Linked DNA regions of Homo sapiens. The protein of the gene in region 2 interacts with the protein of the main gene of each other region in a biochemical or structural test. Each region holds a gene or a part of one and is shown on either strand. Other genes may lie near its edges. The genes, in order: TAFA2 and KIR3DL3.

Region 1 (7,000 bases), on a different chromosome or scaffold from region 2:
TTAAATGTAGCTGGAAAGGAAGTTAGAAATCTTCTTGTCACATGGAACCCAAGAATAAACCTTGGTTAGAGAAATTTGAAATTGAATCTAGCACAACTTCCTCATTCTTATGCTATTCTATTGTTACAATATTACTCTTAACTTATATTTACCACTGATTCCAGTGTTTGTTGTCAATAGACTGCATATGGGTAAAGGAAAGAATAATGTGGTTGGGTGTGGTCGCTCACACCTGTAATCTCAGCACTTTGGGAGTCCAAGGTGGGCGGATCACTTGAGGCCAGGAGTCAGAGACCAGCCTGGGCAGCACAGCAAAACCCCGTTGTTACTAAAAATAAAAAAAAAAAAAAATAGCTGGGTGTGGTGGGGCATGCCAGTAATCCTAGCTACTTGGGAGGCTAAGGCATGAGAATCGCTTGAACTCAAGAGGTGGAGGTTGCAGTGAGCTAAGACTGTGCCACTGCACTCCAGCCTGAGCAGCAGAGTAAGACTTTGTCTCAAAAAAAGGAGAAAAAAAGAAAAGAATAACATAACTGTACACTACTCATTCCTCCATTCAATGGCATACTCCTTGTGGGCTTGGATCAAGCCATGCATTCTCTTTAGTATCTACTATGGTTGGGTAAATTGAATAAGATAATACCTGCAATGTACTCAGCAGAGTGCCCAGATCACAGTAAGAGCTAAGTAAATGCTTCTGTATTTGCTTTTGTTGTTTTAATTCTAATATGAGTACTATTAATATAAAATGTGCTGCATAGGAAATTCTTAATATATTTTGATTTTCATTGCATTATACAATAAAATAATATCATAATGCATACCTTTAAAATCAACTTATATTTGAAGGAACATTTAAAAATTACAGAGCTCTTATCTGCTCAAGCCACTTTAAATAAATGCATAAAGTGAAAGATTTCAATTAGTTAAAAATTAGCCAGAAAATTTCTTCTTAAGTATATGAAAAGTCAATAGACCTGGGACATATGATTCATAAAGGTAATCTTCCTAAAAACAATGTAAAGTCTTATATAATACGAAGTTAGGTAAGAGACCAAGTTTCTCTAACCTGATCCTTAGGTAAGAATCAACATTAAAAACTGCACTGACCACTGTATTTTGTAGCTTGGTGTCCATACCATTAGGCAAGGACTATAAATCCTAAAAACAGAATATTATTTCCTTTAGATCTTCCACGAAGAAAGAATATCAAAACACCCCACACACACACACACACACACAGAATCACAGTCTGTTTTTTTCCGATGATTTCAACCATGTTAAATATTTTCTTTTCTTATATTTTACAAGCTCTGCAGCATCTTTCCCCCCTGTTACTTTTGTGTTGTATAATTAGCTTATAATTATGCACTCTTTCACACTGGAAAGATGATTCTTTTATTAATGACCCTTTGAAAAGTTCTTTATTTGTCTTTGAAAGTGAGTTTGAAATCAAAAGGCTTGAATGACTTTTCCTTTCCTTCTGTTTAACTTAGGAGATCTTAAAAGTAATAAAAGAGACGGTTATAGATGTCACAGAAAGTCATAAATTTTCCACCTTTAGACTGAGAAATGGGGTTTGGGAAACAACTGTTGCATCTTCCACTCTTTCCAAATTAAATGCTTGGGTGTGTGAAGAACAGGTATGCAACAAAACACTCAAGTTCCAAAAATGACTGTCTATTCTTTACCTTTTCCCCCTGTTAGCACCAATAGGAAATGGGTCAGAACCAAAAAAATTCCAGAATCCGATAGAAAAACAGAAGAAGAGTATAATTCACATTTGTAGTAAGTACAATATAGGCTCAAAATTAGTCTTAAGTGGAAAAATCACTCAGACCCTGATTTGTAGTCAATTCGGGAAGGTGCCACTCATCTCTGCTGAGGCCATGCAAGCCTTATTACTATTTCTGGCTGACTGCTATTTATTTAACAGGCTTACCCAAGCACTCCAGATTGGCTATGGGCCATTATAAGGGAGAGTGTACATTATTGCATATTTTAATTATTTCTCAAGCCATTTTGCTTGCAGTGATAATCCCATAAGACCAACATATCTTGCATAAGCAAAGCAAATAGCTTTTGGCTGAGACAGCTCTTGAGTTATTTTGTAACCTATTCCTACATAACTTCTGGCCTTTCCAATTGTGGCTGGGACCTGCCAAATCAGGAGTTCAATGGCTTTTTGGCTCATGGTGATCACAACCACATTATTGAAAACAGACATATGGACAGTAATACCAATGATTAAAATAATGACTCAAATTTGTTTTCAAAAGTAGTGCTATTTATGCATGATGGAAACACTTCTTCTATCTGCCTCTATTCAACATTTCCTCTATCCAACACTTCCACTGTGGGCAAAGTAACACATGCCTAGAGCTATTTTAAGAATTTTTCTTATCGCCTCCAATCTTTTCACTATTTCAGTGGAGATGGCTGAGCAATAATAGCCTGATGACCTTGAAAACTTTTTGCTTCATTTGTAGCACCAGGGAAATTTGCCCAAATTGTTTGGTGGGCCAAACTAAATTGCACATTTTTGCCTTTCTATTTGGAATGCCATAGTGTTCCTTTGGTTGAAAATGTCTAAGTAGCTCCATTTTCACAAGCAGCATTTTTCTTGTGAAAGAATAAAAGGATAAGAATTTACTTTGGTTGTACTCAAGAAGCTCCTTCTTTCAAGTCTTTCTCTCTCCTCTTATATATGATGATTTTTCTTTTCAAAATGGGAGTGACAGACTCTTAGAAATAGAGGGTATCTTAAAAGAAACTAAATCTAAACACCTACTGTTGTATGAAAACCCTCTATAATGTCTTAAATAAGGTCCTCCATTACCAGCTATTCTTTGGGACAAAAGAGATTAAAGAAAAATAGAAAGTGCTATCCTCTATATAGAGGATAATGTCTTATAACTAAAACAAATTATAGGATGTAGATGTGATTTTCCCTACTCATGAGTTCTCAGTCTCTCATCCACCTTGTTTCATTACATTTGGAAGAATTTGTGAAGCAGACACTCCATTTTAAATTTGGGTCATTGAGAATATGGTCAACAGGCCAAAAGGGAGTAAAACAGCACTTCCAAATTTTTTTTTTTCCATGAGAATTTAGACTGCATGGTCTTGACCTTTTCATTTCAATGATCCAGAAAGTTAGAGATATTTTTAAAGGTCGACCTCTTAAGAAAAGAACTATACGATATTTTTACCATTATTGCTTAAGAATAAGTTAAATTATTAGTACAAAGTACAGGTTAAAAGATTGGGTTTTGGAATGGAACTACATGTTTTGAAACCTGGCTTCCTAATTAATTAGCTATATGTCCTTGGGAAGTTACATAACATTTGGAAGTTTTGGTTTACTCATCTGTAAAAGGAGATAATAACACTATCTTCTCCACTGGGCTATTAGGAAGATTAAGTGAGCTAACTCATGTAAAGCATTTTGTTCAGTGTATGGCATATGTTTTAAGTATACAATAAATAATAGCTTCCCCTTGTTCACTGAAGTAATAAAAACAAAGAATTTGGTTGTCAAGAGCTCACAATTTTAAAAATTTGTTTCAGAATCTCAAAACGTTAATGAATTTCCTTAAGTCCTGTTTTTGGACTGAGAATTAATAGTGCTAGGGAAAATATTTTCATGGTATAAATAGCTTATAAGGAAAATTTACATTGCCAGAATGTTTTTAACAAATTAATACGGATTATATCATGTGCTAGCTCACTGAATAATATAATTATCCTAACTAATTGATCATGCATCCAATGGGTTTTGAAAAGGTGTGACACTTAGCTAACAGGTTAGAGTCAAGAAAAATTTCATGAAATATGTTTTTATTCATGCCATTTGAAACTTAGTCACTTCTGTGTATGTCTGATCAGTCAATGTATTAAATATATTACTTGGCAGACTAAATTACATATCTAGATGAGATCATAAAATAAGCCTCTTGTATATGTCTGGACAAGGTTTAAAAGTCTGCTATATCAAGTAGTATTGTAAATTAGCCAGTCTCTACTTTTATGTTACTTTTTATAAAACATCAATTTATACCATTACTCTGTTCTATTCTTCAAATATTCAACTCTAATTTATAGTATGCTTTTCCTAAAAGCAAAACAAAACAAAACCTTCCTTTGCTAATTCTATAAAGAAAAGAATTCAAATTCTGCCAGTCTGGAATACCCATGTGGCAAATTAGGAAATCAAAGAACAAAGCTATTTTTCAGTTCTCTACCATCACCGAGAGGTCAGTAATTACAAAGCTGAAATACATCAGTGTCTTAAGAATATTCTTTTTGTATTGATCTTGAGAATCTGAAACTCTTCCTAGTAGCCCATTACAATAATTGTAAATCTTAACCACTAGAAAACTATTTAATGATTCAGATATCAGGGAGATCAAAATAATTACTTTCATAAAACTAAAAGAATCTCAGTTAAAAAACTGTATTAAAAGTAATATATAAAATAATGTTTTCAGAATTTATTTAGATTACTATACATTAGAAAAATAAAGGATTGGGGTCACCCTCCCAGAATTTAACATGCATCCTCAGTGGGGAAAGGAGGTTCACATTACCCTCAGTATTTTATGAAGGAGCAAACAGTGTTTATTGATCAGATAATATGACAGTTGATGGTACTCTATGGAAGATGTTGTTCTGAGTGAAATAAAAATGTTTTATGAAAAAAGCGAACTAAGAAAAAAATGGGGAAAACATATCTTGCAAAACTATACTCTTCCATTCCACAATTGCCACTTAAATTGGTTACTGCACAAGCTCCGTTCTCTATTAATTCAGAGACATTCTGTTTTCCCAAGCTTGCTGTCCACTTACCCTAGTTGTTTTGACTTTATTCCCAGAGGAACAGCTCCATCCTTTCCGATCCGGAAGAACTTTACATTCTTCTCCCTCTAGACATGGCTGCATATGGCACCACCATTTCTGTTCCACTATTGAAGCTATAAGAGAGAAAAAAAATTGACTCAACATTTTTTTCTTGGGACTTATTTCTCTTGTTCACCTTTAAAGAGGAACAAAAGCCACTAATTTTTCCTACCAGTGGGAATACAGGTATTTGAGGTATGCCTTTCTTTTTGTTCAAAAGGACAAAACCTTTCAAGATTTTCTAACTAAAATAATTTTCTTTAAAACATTTTTTATTTTATTGTAATGAGAACACTTAACATGAGATCTATCCACTTAATAAAATTGTAAGTGTAGAATGCAGTATAGTTAACTATAGACACAATATTACAGGATTTTCATGTGAAAATAGACTTCATGAAAGCTAAGATATTGAAAATAAACTATGCAAATGTGTATATGCACCAATTTATATAAATATATAAGAAAATGGACCTATGACCAGTTTTTAGAGTCAACACTTTATAATCAATATAATATTCCCATGAATAAGATGGTTATCAGGAGGGTGTTTATCAGAGTTATCATAATTTTTTTAACTGTGTGCTATAACCTCATCACAAGCAATATATTATAGTAATATGAGCACTTAACAAATTACTATTTATGGTAACATCAACTAAATAAATGCATATAAAGATTTATGTCCTACTATAATTAGGTGAACCCTCAAGGAAAAAAATTAATATATTATTGCATCATCATAAAAGTTGATATTTTATGTTAATTCTATCCACAACTAAATGTTCACTCATATACATGGTGCTATTTTTTTTAATTCTTAAGAATATCCATGGGTTTAAGAACCCATAATATTAAATCATCCATTTTCATCTTTCCTTTTCCAATTAATTTACACATAATCCACCTCCCACCATCCACCGAGAAATCAACATTTCATGGTATCAAAATAAGATGCACATTAATTTAATGGAACCTCATTATAATGCCTTTTGTAACAGAACTGCATAATATTTTAGACCTCTTTCCAGAGGATTTTAGATTTCAAAATGCCACCCAAATATTCTAGTTTCAACTTATCATGGTATTTGTAGTATGTTCACCCAGGATTGACCTCCCATTGAGAGCATTATAGTGGGGTTCTAGTTCTAAGCCATCCTTGGCTGTGCTGTTACAATAAGGAATGGAAGAAGTCACACCATCCACACATGATGGAGCAGCTCGCGTGGTGCCTGCCACCTGCCCAGGGAAGCAGGAGCACTTGACTGTTTGTGACCGTTCTTCTATCTTGTTCTTATTACAGCATCTGTGGAGTGCCACCACCTCACAAGTTCCCGTTTTAACATGGTGAGCTGCACAAACAAAAAAGATAAGACAACATTGAGAAAGCTTTGGACACTTCCCCCCACCCTTCTTTTTAATTAGCAGTACATTAAATATAGCTCTATAAGGGGTCCACCAGGCATGAAACGAGAAATACAATGATGCTAACTCCATAATGCAGATTTGATTTCTTTTCTAAATGTGGTAGGAACATTTCTGTCAGTGAATGCTTGGTAAAGCAGGAACAATTAGTGACTAGATTAGAATAAGCTGTTAAAAGTCTGATACAGAAGCAGTATGTGCCGTCATCAAAAACATTTATTTGCATATGACTTTTTAATGCCTTTTTGTTCAATGCATTAATCAAAGTAAAATAAACCTCTGGCCTAGGTACCCTGCAATGGGACTGAGGCCAGCCCCATTCTCAAAGTGGGTGGTTGCTGATAAAGCTTGTGTTCTTCTAGGGGAGAGTAAGAGGACTAGGCAGGAAGTGGAGGCAGACAGTGGGCACCCACATGCTCAGTATTCTTCTGCTCAGTTTCCCTGAAAATGAACAAATCCAGTGATTCTTGAAATTGCCACCATTTTTCTGGAAGATCCAACCAGTCCCAGAAGCCAGAGTCATTCCTTTCAATTTTGCCTGAGAGGGCAACTGTCACCAAATGGTACCATGAACTTGGATAATTCGTATCTGGCAGCCAATTGCCTGTAAACCCAGTCCAATAAGCTGTCAGGCTTCCATATTCATTTTGTCAACCTTGAATAAGGACACTAAGTG
Region 2 (12,215 bases):
GTTGCTGGTGATGACATCTCTCTGTGGGTGACAGGCCAGGATGGGCTTCTGGGAAGTGGGTAAGGTTGAGGGGCTGAGAGAACCTCTGATCTCCCCAGGCAGAGCCCAGTCTCCCTCCTCTGGGTCTGTTCTGACCTCTTTCTCCATCTGCCTGGGTGCCTGGAACCCTGATCAAGGGCATCCTTGCAGGCCATACAGGAGGGTTTGGAGGTGCCCTGTCTGCCATCCTGCGCCCTGACCCCGCCCTTACACCCATGCTGTGTGTTCTGTCTCGGCATCTGTCCATGCTTCTCTCCATCATCAGCAGGAAGCTCCTCAGCTATGGCTCTAGGATCACAAGACATGGGACAGGCATGGTGTTTTCTCACCTGTGACAGAAACGGGCAGTGGGTCACTCGGGTCTGACCACGCATGGGGCAGGGCACGGAAAGAGCCGAAGCATCTGTAGTTCCCTCCGTGGGTCACAGGGCCCAGAGGGAAGTTGGCCTGGAATGTTCCATTGACCCTCAGCACTGCAGTGAGCCTAAGTTCACCGGCCTCCGCCTCCCTGGATAGATGGTAAATGTCAAACAAGCTCCGGGAGCTGCAGGACAAGGTCACATTCTCTCCTGCCTGAACCGTGGGGCCCGGCTGGGCTGAGAGAGAAGGTTTCCCATATAGACCTGGAAGAAGAAGAGGTGGTTTCCTCAGGGAGGTTCTTCCTTGTCACAGCTCTCCTCACACCTGAGCTGAGAACTCACTCCCCTGCTCTATGACTTAATGCTCTCTTTCTCTCTCTCACCCTCCACCCCCATCTCTCTTCATGTCTATTTCCTCCTTCCACCTTCTCTGTCTCTCTAGGTCTCTGACCTCACTTCTCCATCCCTAGCTATGTTTTCTTTTTTTGTACCATTTTATTCTCTCTGACCCTCCTTGGACTGGTTGACTTGATCTTCCTCTTTCTTTAATTCTGAGTCTCTCACTTTCTGTCTTGCTCATAACTTTCTGCATATTTCTATCTATTATCTATTGATCGATCTATCATTTATCTATGTATGTATCTATCATCTATCATCATCTGTGTATCTATGACCTATCTCTCTGTTATCTATCATCTATCAATCAATGTATGTATGTATGCATCTATCCATCTATCATCATGTGTTTATCTGTCTTTCTATCTCTCTATATCTATTTATATATCATCTGTCTGTCTTTCTACTTGTCTATCTATATCATCTATCAGTCATTCATCATCTATTTGTCTATCACCTGTCTCTCTATTATCTATCATCTACCTTTTATCTTTCATCTATCTATATCTATCTGTCCATCTATCATCTGTCTCTCTCCATCTCCTTGTCTTTCTCTGCCTCTCAGTCTCTCTAGTTCCCTTTTGGAGTCTCTGCAATCCATCCTCACATCTTTATCTTTCCCTGTCTTTGTGCCCCTCCCTCAGGGCTCTGATTTTAGGGCTTTTCTCTGCTTCCTTCCATCATACGCTCCACTTCTCTGCCCTCTTTTTCTATCTCTTTATGTGTCTGTGAGTCTCTCAATTCCCTTCTTCTGGCTCATTCTGTGTGTGTGTTCATGTCTTTGCTTTTTGATTTCCCTGATTTCACTCCGTGTCTCTCTGTGGGCTTTTGTTCTCAGTAATCCTATAACATGTGGTGCTATTTGAATATGAGCCTCAGAATCCAGTATGGGGACTCCAGGAACTCACAGCATACAGGGGTTGGTGTTCTGCTCCCTCACCTGGGGCCATGGTGTCCTGGGACGATGACAGCTCCACTGCACGGAAGGCAGAGGTTTAAGAATAAACACAACATCTGTAGGTGCCACCAGCCTGGGGCCACATGGCCCAACTCAGGCCAGATAGATGTGTCTCTTTGGGTTCTCCTGGGAGAGAACACTTTGTAGAGGTAAAACAGAATGGAACCTTCTAACCTGTGCCTGGTCTCTGAACAAAGTCAGCATAGAAGGACACCTCTCTCTGGGATATGTCTGTCTCTCTGTGTCTTCTTTACCTCTTTATCTCTTTTTCTAACACCTTGTATGGCCCCTGTGTCTGGCTTCTATGTTATGACATGAGGTCTGTACTTGTGTCTCCTGTTTCTCTGCCTTTGTTGGTACAGACCTCACCAAGTCACTTTCTCTCCATAGGAACCCCACACTCATCTTCCTCATGACCACCTGGGGCTTCCAGTCCTAGATCATTCACTCCATCTCCCAGCAAGGGTGAGAGGCAGGTCTGTATTCTCTCACCTACGACCACGATGTCCAGAGGGTCACTGGGAGCCGACAACTCATAGGGTAAGTGAGTGACAGAACCAAAGCATCTGTAGGTCCCTGCAAGGGCAGGTGTCATGGGACCCATGGAATAGTTGACCTGGGAACCCGCATCGTGGAGCTGTCCAACGAGGCGCAAGGGGTCCTCAGTGATCCCCTCTCTGTGCAGAAGGAAGCGCTCAAACCTGACATCTGACCAACATTGCAGGATGACCGTCTCTCCTGATTTCACCAGGGGACCTGGGTGGGCCAGGAGGGAAGGTTTTCTGTGGACTCCTAAGAAGAGAGGTTGTGAGTTCAGAAGGCGTCTCCCTTTCTCATCCCATTCATGGGACCTGAAATAAGTGAGGCTTCCCCTCCATGGTGTCTATCTCTCTCCTTCCTGTCTGTGTCTCCGTGTTCTTTTGTGCCCATAACCCCTGTTGCAGGTCCCTCCATCTGTCTCCCTCCCTCTTCCCTGTCTCTCTGTCTCTAGTAGCCCTGATTCCCTTCCCACTGTGCTCAGTGTCACCTCTTAGGCTGTTGTATCTGTTTCCCACTAATCTCTTTCCTGGTGTTTATGTGGGGGTGGAAGAGGAACCATGACAGGCTGCATGTCCAGGCTCTTAGCAGCCTGAATCAATCTCTTTTGGACAGATTGGAAAGGCCGGCAGGAGGTACGAACTCATCAGTAAGGCAGGCATCAGTGTCCCTGTTCCTGATGGGGATTGGGAGCCTCTCCTTTCATGTCTGTGCCTTCTCCATGGCCCCAGCTTCCATAGGGTGGCCCCTGGTGCTGGTTCCAGGAGCATCAACCCCTCCCTATGTGGATCGAGCCTGGTGGTAGCATCAGTATCCCACCCATGCTAAAATCAGTGTAGCCAACCTTCTCCTTGTTTGGTTTCTTAACCTGTGCTTCACCTGGGTTCCTGTGTTGGTTTCCTGTTGCTGCTGGAGAAAATTGTCACAAACATGGGGCAGGAGAGAATACAATGACCTCTTCCACTTCTGGAGAACAGAAATCGGACCCAGTTCTCTCTGGGCTAAAATCAAGGCATCTGCAGGGCTGTGTTTCCTCTGGAGACTCAGGGAAGAATCAGTTCCCTTGACTTCTCCAGCCCTTAGAGGCCACCTGCCTTTGTGGCTCATGGCCTTCCCCCATCTTCAAAGCCCGCTGTGGCTGATGGAGTCTCCCTCCCACGACGTTGCTCTAACCCCACTTTCCTCTTCCTCCTCCTCTCATGAGGACCCTTGTGATTACTCTGAGCACAGCAGGACAGTCCAGGCTGTCTCCCCATCGCAAGGTCAACTCATCAACAACCTGAGCTCCATCTTCCTCTTCAGTCCCCTGCCCTATAACATAAATAGTCACAGGGTTCATGGATTACCATGTAGCCATCACTGGGGACAATTATTCTTCCCACCACAGCAACTATTTCTCTGTACTGAATCCCCCTTTACCCCAAATACAGTCGGGGCCTGGATGATTGGACCCTGATGGACGCCCCCACCAGAAGCTCTGGGATTCAGGAGGTGGGACAGTGAGAAGCCCAGACAGAAAGCCTCTGACCTGTGACCATGATCACCACAGGGTTGCTGGGTGCCGACCACCCAGTGGGGGAGTGTGGGTGTGAACTGCAACATCTGTAGGTCCCTGCATGTGCTGGGGTCACAGGGCCCATGAGAAAGCTGTTCCGGAATATTCTGTTGTAGAGCTCAGGGACAGGCATCCCGTCTTCTTTGGACAGACTGAATTCATTAAACCCAAGACGAGAGCGACACTGAAGAGTCACATGTTGTCCTTCAGACACCACAGTGCCGGGCCAGGCAGAGAGGAAGGGCTTGTCCTGACCACCTGGGGGAGAAGGAGGCACCACCTTAGAGAGGAGGATGTGGAGCCGCCCCTCCCTCCCTGTGCTCAGAAGATTCTCCCATTTCCACGTTTCTAAGGCTCCTACCACACCTGGGTGCCCAGGGCTACAGGAAGGACCCATCCCGCATAGACATGGCGTCTCCCTACAGCAAGTGTCAGCTGAGAACTTTGAGCAGGTGCTGAAGAAGCGACTCTTACTAGATTTTAACACTGCAAAATTACTTACATAAAAGAACACAAGGTAGACACAGGATGGAGGGCATGATCAGCTAATGCATGAACCATAATAAACAACTGAGCCCCTATTAGAAGATCTGGAATGTCAGGGTCATGACTGTGGTTCCCCCACCTCTTAGGTAGAATGACAGCAGCCACATTGCAGCCCCTACCGTCATGGAAACGCTGGAGGGTGTGAGTTATGCTCTTGTCCTCAGAGGCCTGTTGTTCCTTGCACTGCTTCTCTCCCTTCCTCTGCCGGTGACACCACTTCCTCCCTGCACACCACTCCTTTGAGCACTTCAGTCTCCCCCTGGGTCCCCACAGACTCAGCCAAGGGAAAGAAAGGCCGGGGAGGGCTAGGACAGAACTGTGGCGAAGCTTCCCCTGGCTTCCTTTTCCTAGTTCATGAGAGATTCCCACATGGCTTCCCATGGTCAGCCCATCAGTCAACCCCCTGTGTCGCCTGCCTCCCGTTTCAGGAGCATCATCTTATGTGGGGAGATGACAACCTAAGGTTTGGGGGAAGGACTCACCCACATGTGGCCAGGGCCCCTCCAGCAAGAAGAACCCTGGAAAGAAAGATCATGATGGATGATCCATCTGTACATCACCTCCAGGCCCATATCTCCACTCCAGGCCCATATCTCCACCTCTAGGCCCATATCTCCACTCCAGGCCTATATCTCCACCTCCGTCCTATATCTCTACTCCAGGCCCATATCTCCACTCCAGGCCTATATCTCCACCTCCGTCCTATATCTCTACTCCAGGCCCATATCTACACTCCAGGCCCATATCTCCACCTCCAGGCCTGTATCTCCACCTCCAGGCCCGTGTCTCCATTCCAGGCCCATATCTGCACTCCAAGCCAACATCTCCACTCCAGGCCCGTATCTCTACTCCAGGCCCATATCTACAGTTCCAGGCCCATATCTCCACCTCCAGGCCCATATCTCCACTCTAGGCCCATATCTCCACCTCCAGGCCCGTATCTCAATTCCAGGTCCATATCTGCACTCCAAGCCAATATCTCCACTCCAGGCCCATATCTACAGTTCCAGGCCCATATCTCTACTCCAGGCCCATATCTCTACTTCAGGCCCATATCTACAGTTCCAGGCCCATATCTCCACTCCAGGCCCATATCTCCACCCCAGGCCCATATCTCCACTCCAGGCCTATATCTCCACTCCAGGCCCATATCTCCACTCCAGGCCCAGATCTCCACTCCAGGCCCAGATCTCCACCCCAGCGCTCCCTCCCTCGATTCCCTTCCAGGACTCACCAACACACGCCATGCTGACGACCATGAGCGACATGGTGCTGCCGGTGCAGACAGGCGGCTGCGCCCCAGCTCAGTTCAGCAGCACACAGGATGTTGTGAGGGGCTCATGCAGTTTACATGCTGACCACATCATGGGAGGATGACGTATGCAGGCTATTTCTACCTTGCATGAGGCCCAGTGGCTGTTTGGTCAAGAGCGGAACATGGCTTCCTGGAAATTGTTCCAACTAGAATTGACACCTTGCATCCTTCACTATAACCAACTCAAAACACGTCTCAGATCCAATCTCTCATACAGGAGATGACTGAATGCTTGGCTTACATTAAAGACTTTTGATGTATTTTTGTTGTTTTTATCTGAGATTCAAACTCTTCTTCATGTGCTATTTTCCCCAGGCTGTTCTTTGACTTCAGAGTTCAAGCAATCCTCCTGCCCCAGCATTTCTAGCAGCTGGCAGTATGTCACAATCTGCCACACCCAAGTCACAACTTTTAGAACTTTTTTTTTTTTTGAGACGCAATCTCACTTCGTCACCCAGTTTGGAATGCAGTGGTGAGACCTCGGCTCATTGCAGCCTCCACCTCCCAGGTTCACGCAATTCTCGTGCCTCAGCCTCCTAAGTAGCTGGATTTACAGGCACCCACCATCACGCCCACCTAATTTTTGTACTTTTAGTAGAGAGGAGGTTTCTCCATGTTGGCCAGGCTGGTCTTGAACTCCTAACCTCAAGTGATCTGTCTACTTCAGCCTCCCAAAGTGCTGAGATTACAGGTGTGAGCCACCATGCCTGGCCGGGACATTCTATATGTGTGCGTATGTGTGCGTTTATATACATATGGTTATACACACACACACACACACACACCCTAAGCACTCACATATATAGTTGTTTCAAATTTTAAAAAATATAAATTTTGTATTTTTCTTTCTTTTTCTCACATTTGTGTTTCTATGACACCATATACATATTGAATTTTATAGTTCTATTTTATTCTTTTGGATTGCAGTTTAATAGTCCATACATAACTTTATCAACATGTAATTATCCACTCTTTTTATCATGGACATTTGTGTTGTTTCCGGATTTTCTCTTTTATAACTCGGGCCTTGATAATCGTGTTTCTGTGTGATCCCTTGCATACATATGCTGAATTAATTAGACATATTTACCTAGGAATGAAATTATTGGTTTTGGGTGCAAGTTGGTGTTGAGCTTAACCAGGAAGTGCCAAAATATTTCCATCATGACCAAATGTGGCCTGGAAAGTTTTTTGGGGTCAATTTTCCTGTTTCTTCTAAGGAACAAAATTGATGTCACTGATTTTTCTGTCCTGTTTGTCATTTATGAATATACGTACATATGCACGTATATATTTGCTTGCCATTTTATGTTTTTCCTCGACGTTACTTTGGAATTAATTTGCTGATGTGTAGTATTTCTGCAAGCGAAAGTTACCTATTTACTCAGCTCTTCCTTCTTTTCTAACACAGACATTTGAGGCTTATTTTCCTTTAACACTGTTCTATCTGTATCCCCAGTCATTTGCCGAGATGTGTTTTCATTTTTAATTGATACAAAATATTTTCCACCTTTCTTTGAAATGTTTTTCTTCCACTCATTGTTTATTGCTATGTGTGTTTATTAATTTTAAAATATTTGATAATTTCCCCAGCATTTCCTTGTTGTACATTTATAATTTAATTCAACTGTTTCATCTATCATATTACCTATGATTCAGCATTTAAAAATTTATTTTGGTGAATGTTCCAGGGGTGCTAGACAAGTTTGTGGATTAGGAAGATTTGAGGTGGATGTTTTCTAAATGTCAGTTAAGAAAAAAATCATTCAAATGTTTTTCTTTATTTAAAAAAAATAGAGACGGGGTCTCACTATGGTGCCCAGGCTGGTCTCAAACTCCTGGCCTCAAGTGATCCTCCCATTTTGGCCTCCCAAAGTGCTAGGATTATTGAAATTATTAAATGTTTCATATCAACACCCAACCTTATGCACCCGCCGCCTACACAAATGTTTTTCAAGTCTTTCATATGCTTAATAATTTTCTGTGTACTTGTTCTGGAAGTGAGGTGAATGTTGCTATCTCTAGCTGCAATTTGGATGTGATTGATTATGTTTTGAATTATGCCTTTAATTTAATGTGTTTTGAGGTTCCAGCTTTAGGTGTGTAGGCATTTAGGATTATTATGTCTTATTTATGAATTTGCCTCTTTGTCATTATGAAGTACTCCTCTTCATATCTCCATATATCTCTTCTTTGTATGTGCATGGTGAAATATTTCATTCTTTGAGTTAAGAAACTTCTATTGAGGAATACTTTTTATTACAAACATTTACCTATTCTATGTATACAACTGACTAGAAGCATATTTTGCACTGGGCATTATCATGACAATGTAATGTCATTCTTTCAATATTTACATCTTGTGGATTAGTATTTGAAGTGCAGCTTATGTAGACAGCATAAGGTTGGGTGTTGATATGAAACATTTAATAATTGCACACGTATTTGCCTCTTGGGATACTTCCACTTTTTTGAATTTCAAGTTACTAAATGGTATCATTAATCTTTGCTTCAAGAGCTTAACATTTATTGTAGAACAATGCTTCATGTAATAAATTGTGAGACATTTTTAATGGCACCTTTATTGCAGGAAAATGTTTTCCTTTTCAGGTTGAAAGATTCTAGTTTGAAATATTTTCTTGTAGCACTTTAAAAATGTTGGTCCACCTATTTCTTACTTTCATAGTTTTGAATACAAAGTTTGCTGTCATTCTTGTATTTCTTCTTCTGTTTTTTATTTATTTATTTTTGACAGAATATCTTGCCGTCTCACCCAGGCTGGAGTGCAGTGGCATGATCTTGGCTCACTGCAACCTCTGCCTTCCAGGTTTCAGCAATTCCTGCCTCAGCCTCCTGAGTAGCTGGGACTACAGGCATGCGCCACCATACCCAGCCAATTTTTTTTTTTGTATTTTTTTTTTGTAGAGATGAAGTTTTGCCATATTGGCCAGAACTCCTGACCTCAAATGATCCACCTGCTTTGGCCTCCCAAAGTGCTGGGATTACAGGTGTGAGCCACTGTGCTCAGGCTATTTATTCCTTTTTATATAATATGAATTCACATTCATACATACCAGGGGTTAGGATTTCAACAAACGTTTCTGGGGGAGACCACTCAAAACACAGCACTCATCCTTGGTTATTTCCAGCCATGGAGCCTGTATCAATATCCTGGTGAATTATCTAAGCTGTCCACCTACCTACCCCAAATCCTCATGGTCACATAAAAGGCTAGTATAGTATAATAATTTTTCTTTCCCTGCTTATCTACAGTGATGAAGAAACGAATATTCAAAGGGAAAAATCTTAGCTTTAGGTATAGGGTAATTCTTCTTCCTATTTTTAAATAACTTCAACCTTTACTGTAGATTAAAGGTATGCATGCAGGTTTGTTACATAGGCATATTGTGTGACTCTGAGGTTTGTGGTTCCAACAATGCCATCACCCAGGCAATGAGCATAGAATCCAACAGGTGTTTCTTCAGCCTATACCTCCCTACTCCTCCCCCCATCTGTAGTCCTCGGTATCTGTTGTTTCCATCTTTATGTTCATGTGTATTCAATGTTTGGTTCTCAGTTATAAGTGATAACATGTGGTATTTGGTTTTCTGTTCCTGGGTTAGTTCACTTAGGAGATTGACCTCCTGCTACATTCATGTTGCTGCAAAGGACATGATTTCATTATTTTTTATGGCCATGTAATGTTCCATGTGTATATGTAGCACATTTTCTTTAACTAATCCACTGTTGGTGAGCACTTAGGTTGACTGCAAATCTTTGCTATTCTGAATTGCACAGCAATGAATATACTAGTGCATGTGTCTTTTTGACATAGTTAATTACCTTCCTTTTGGTATATACCCAGTAGTGGGATTGCTTGATTGAATAGTAGTTCTATTTTAAGTTATTTGAGAAGTCTCCAAACTGCTTATCACATTGGCTGAACTAGTTAACATTCCCACCAAGAGTGTATAAGTGTTCCCTTTTCTCCACAATCTTGTCAGCATCTGTTATTAAAAAAAACAAAAAACTTTTTAGTAATTGCTTCTGCTTCTCTGATTGTTGTGAGATGGTATCTCACTGTGGTTTTAATTTGCATTTCTCTGATGATTACTGATAATAAGCATTTGTTCATATGTTTTTTGGCCATGTGTACATCTTCTTTTGAGAAGTGTCTGTTCATGTCATACTTAATTGAGGTTTTTTGGTTTTCTGCTTGTTGATTTGTTTACATTCCTTATAGATTCTGGATATTAGAACTTTGTCAGATGCATAGTTTGCAAATATTTTCTCCCAGTCTGTAGGTTATCTGTTTACTCTGTTGATACTTTCGTTTGCTGTGCAGAAGCTCTTCAGTTGAGTTAGGTCCCAATTTCTGTCTTTGTCACAATTGGTTTTGGGGAGTTAGCCATAAATTCTTTGCCAAAGTCTATCTTGAGAAGGATATTTCCTAGGTTTTCTTCTAGAATTTTAATATTTTGAGGTTTTACATTTAAATCTTTAAACTATCTTGGGTTAATTTTTGTATATAGTGAGAGTTAGGGGTCCAGTTCTATTATTTTGCATATGAGTAGTCAGTTATCCCAGAACTATTTATTGAAGAAAGGGTACTTTCCACATTGCTTGTTTTTGTCAATTTTTTCAAAGATGATTGTAGGTATGTAGCCTCATTTCTGGGTTCTCTATTCTGTCTCATTGGTCTATGTGTCTGTTTTTGTAGTAGTATCATGCTGTTTGGGTTACTATAGCATTGTAGTATAGTTTGAAGTTGGGTAATGTGATGCCTGGGCTTTGTTCTTTGTGCTTAGGATTCCTATGTGTATTCAGGCTCTTTTTTTGGTGCCAAATACATTTTAGAATAAATTTTTATAATTTCGTGAAAAATGACATTGCATTTTGAAATGGATAGCATTGAGTCTGCAATTTGTTTTTGGAAGTATGGCGATTTTAACTATTTGTTCTCCTAATTCATGAGCATGGAATATTCTTCCATTTGTTTGTATCATTTCTTATTTCTTTCAGAAGTGTTTTGTAGTTCTCCTTGTAGAGAATTTTCACCTTCTTGGTTAGATGGATTCCTAGGTATTTTATTTTCTTTGTGGCTAGTGTAAATGGAATTGTGTTCTTGATTTAGTTCTCAGCTAGAATGTTAGTGGTGCATAGAAATGTTACTAATTTGTGTACATTTTTTTAATCCCGAAACTTTATTGAATTTGTTTATCAGTTTCAGGAGCCTTCTGACAGAGTCTTTAGGGTTTTCTATGTATAAAATTATTTCATCAGCAAAGAGAGACAGTATCACTACTTCTTTTCCAATTTTAATGCCTTTTATTTCCTTCTCTTGCCTGATTGCTTTGGCTAGGACTTCCAGTACCATGTTGAATTAAAATGGCGGGAGTGGTCATCCTGGTCTTGTTTCGGTTCTCAAGGGGTATGGTTCCAGCTTTTGCCCATCAATATGATGTTGGCTGTGGGTTTGTCATAGATGGCTCTTAATATTTTGAGGTATGTTCCTTTGATGCCTATTGACAGTTTTTATCATGAAGGGATGTTGGATTTTACAGAAAGCTTTTTCTGCATCTATTGAGATGATCATATAGTTTTTGTTTTTAATTATGTTTATGAGGTGAATCACATTCGTTGACTTTGTAGGTTGAACCAACCTTGCATCCCAAAAATAAAGCTTACTTGATCATGTGAATTAACTTTTGATGCACTGACAGATTCAATTTGCTAGCATTTTGTTGAGGATTTTATGTCTATGTTCATTAAGGATATTTAGTTGTAGTTTTCTTTTTTTCATTATGTCTCTGACAGATGTTGGTATCATGGTGATGATGGCTTCATAGAATGAGTTAGGAAGAAGCCCCCACTCCTTGATTTTTTCCAAAAGTTTCAGTAAGATCGGTATCAGTTCTTCTTTGTATGGCTGTTGGATTTTGGCTGTGAATCCATCTGGTCCTGGGCTATTTTTAGTTAGTAGGGTTTTTATTACTGATTAAATTTCTGAACTTGTTATTGGTCTGTTCAGGTTTTCACTTTCTTCCTGGTTGAAATATGATAAATTTTGTGTTACCAGGAATTTATCCATTTCTTCTAGGTTTTCTAGCTTGTTTGTATAGAGGTGTTCATAATAGTCTTTGACGATCTTTTCTATTTCTGTGGGATTGTTCGTAACATTGTTTTGTCAGTTCTATTTGTGTTTATTTGGATCTTTTCTCTTTTTCTTTGTTAATCTAGCTAACAGTCTATGAATTTTGTTTATTTTTTTTCAAAGAAAAACTCTTGGTTTTATTTATCTCTTGTATGGACTTTTTGGTCTCAATTTATTCAGTTCTCTCTGACTTTAGTTATTTCTCATCTTTTGCTGGCCTTGGGTTTGGACTGTTCCTTTTTTTTAATAGTTCCTCTAGATGCAGTGTTAAGTCACTAATTTGAGATCTTTCTAAACTTCTGATGAGGCATGTATTGCTATAAATTTTCCTCTTATCACTGCTTTAACTGCATCCC

Evidence for each region.
Region 1: the proteins of KIR3DL3 (region 2) and TAFA2 form a complex in vitro, tested with the Homo sapiens proteins (one study listed by BioGRID).

The regions. Positions count from the first base shown.
Region 1 is NC_000012.12:61,748,774-61,755,773, forward strand, and holds part of TAFA2 (chemokine-like protein TAFA-2 precursor), read right to left. Parts: intron 6,252-7,000; coding exon 6,099-6,251; intron 4,974-6,098; coding exon 4,849-4,973; intron 1-4,848. UniProt on the Homo sapiens protein: Has a role as neurotrophic factor involved in neuronal survival and neurobiological functions.
Region 2 is NC_000019.10:54,717,940-54,730,154, reverse strand, and holds the start of KIR3DL3 (killer cell immunoglobulin-like receptor 3DL3 precursor), read right to left. Parts: upstream 5,714-12,215; 5' UTR 5,659-5,713; coding exon 5,625-5,658; intron 4,909-5,624; coding exon 4,873-4,908; intron 4,103-4,872; coding exon 3,818-4,102; intron 2,545-3,817; coding exon 2,245-2,544; intron 663-2,244; coding exon 369-662; intron 1-368.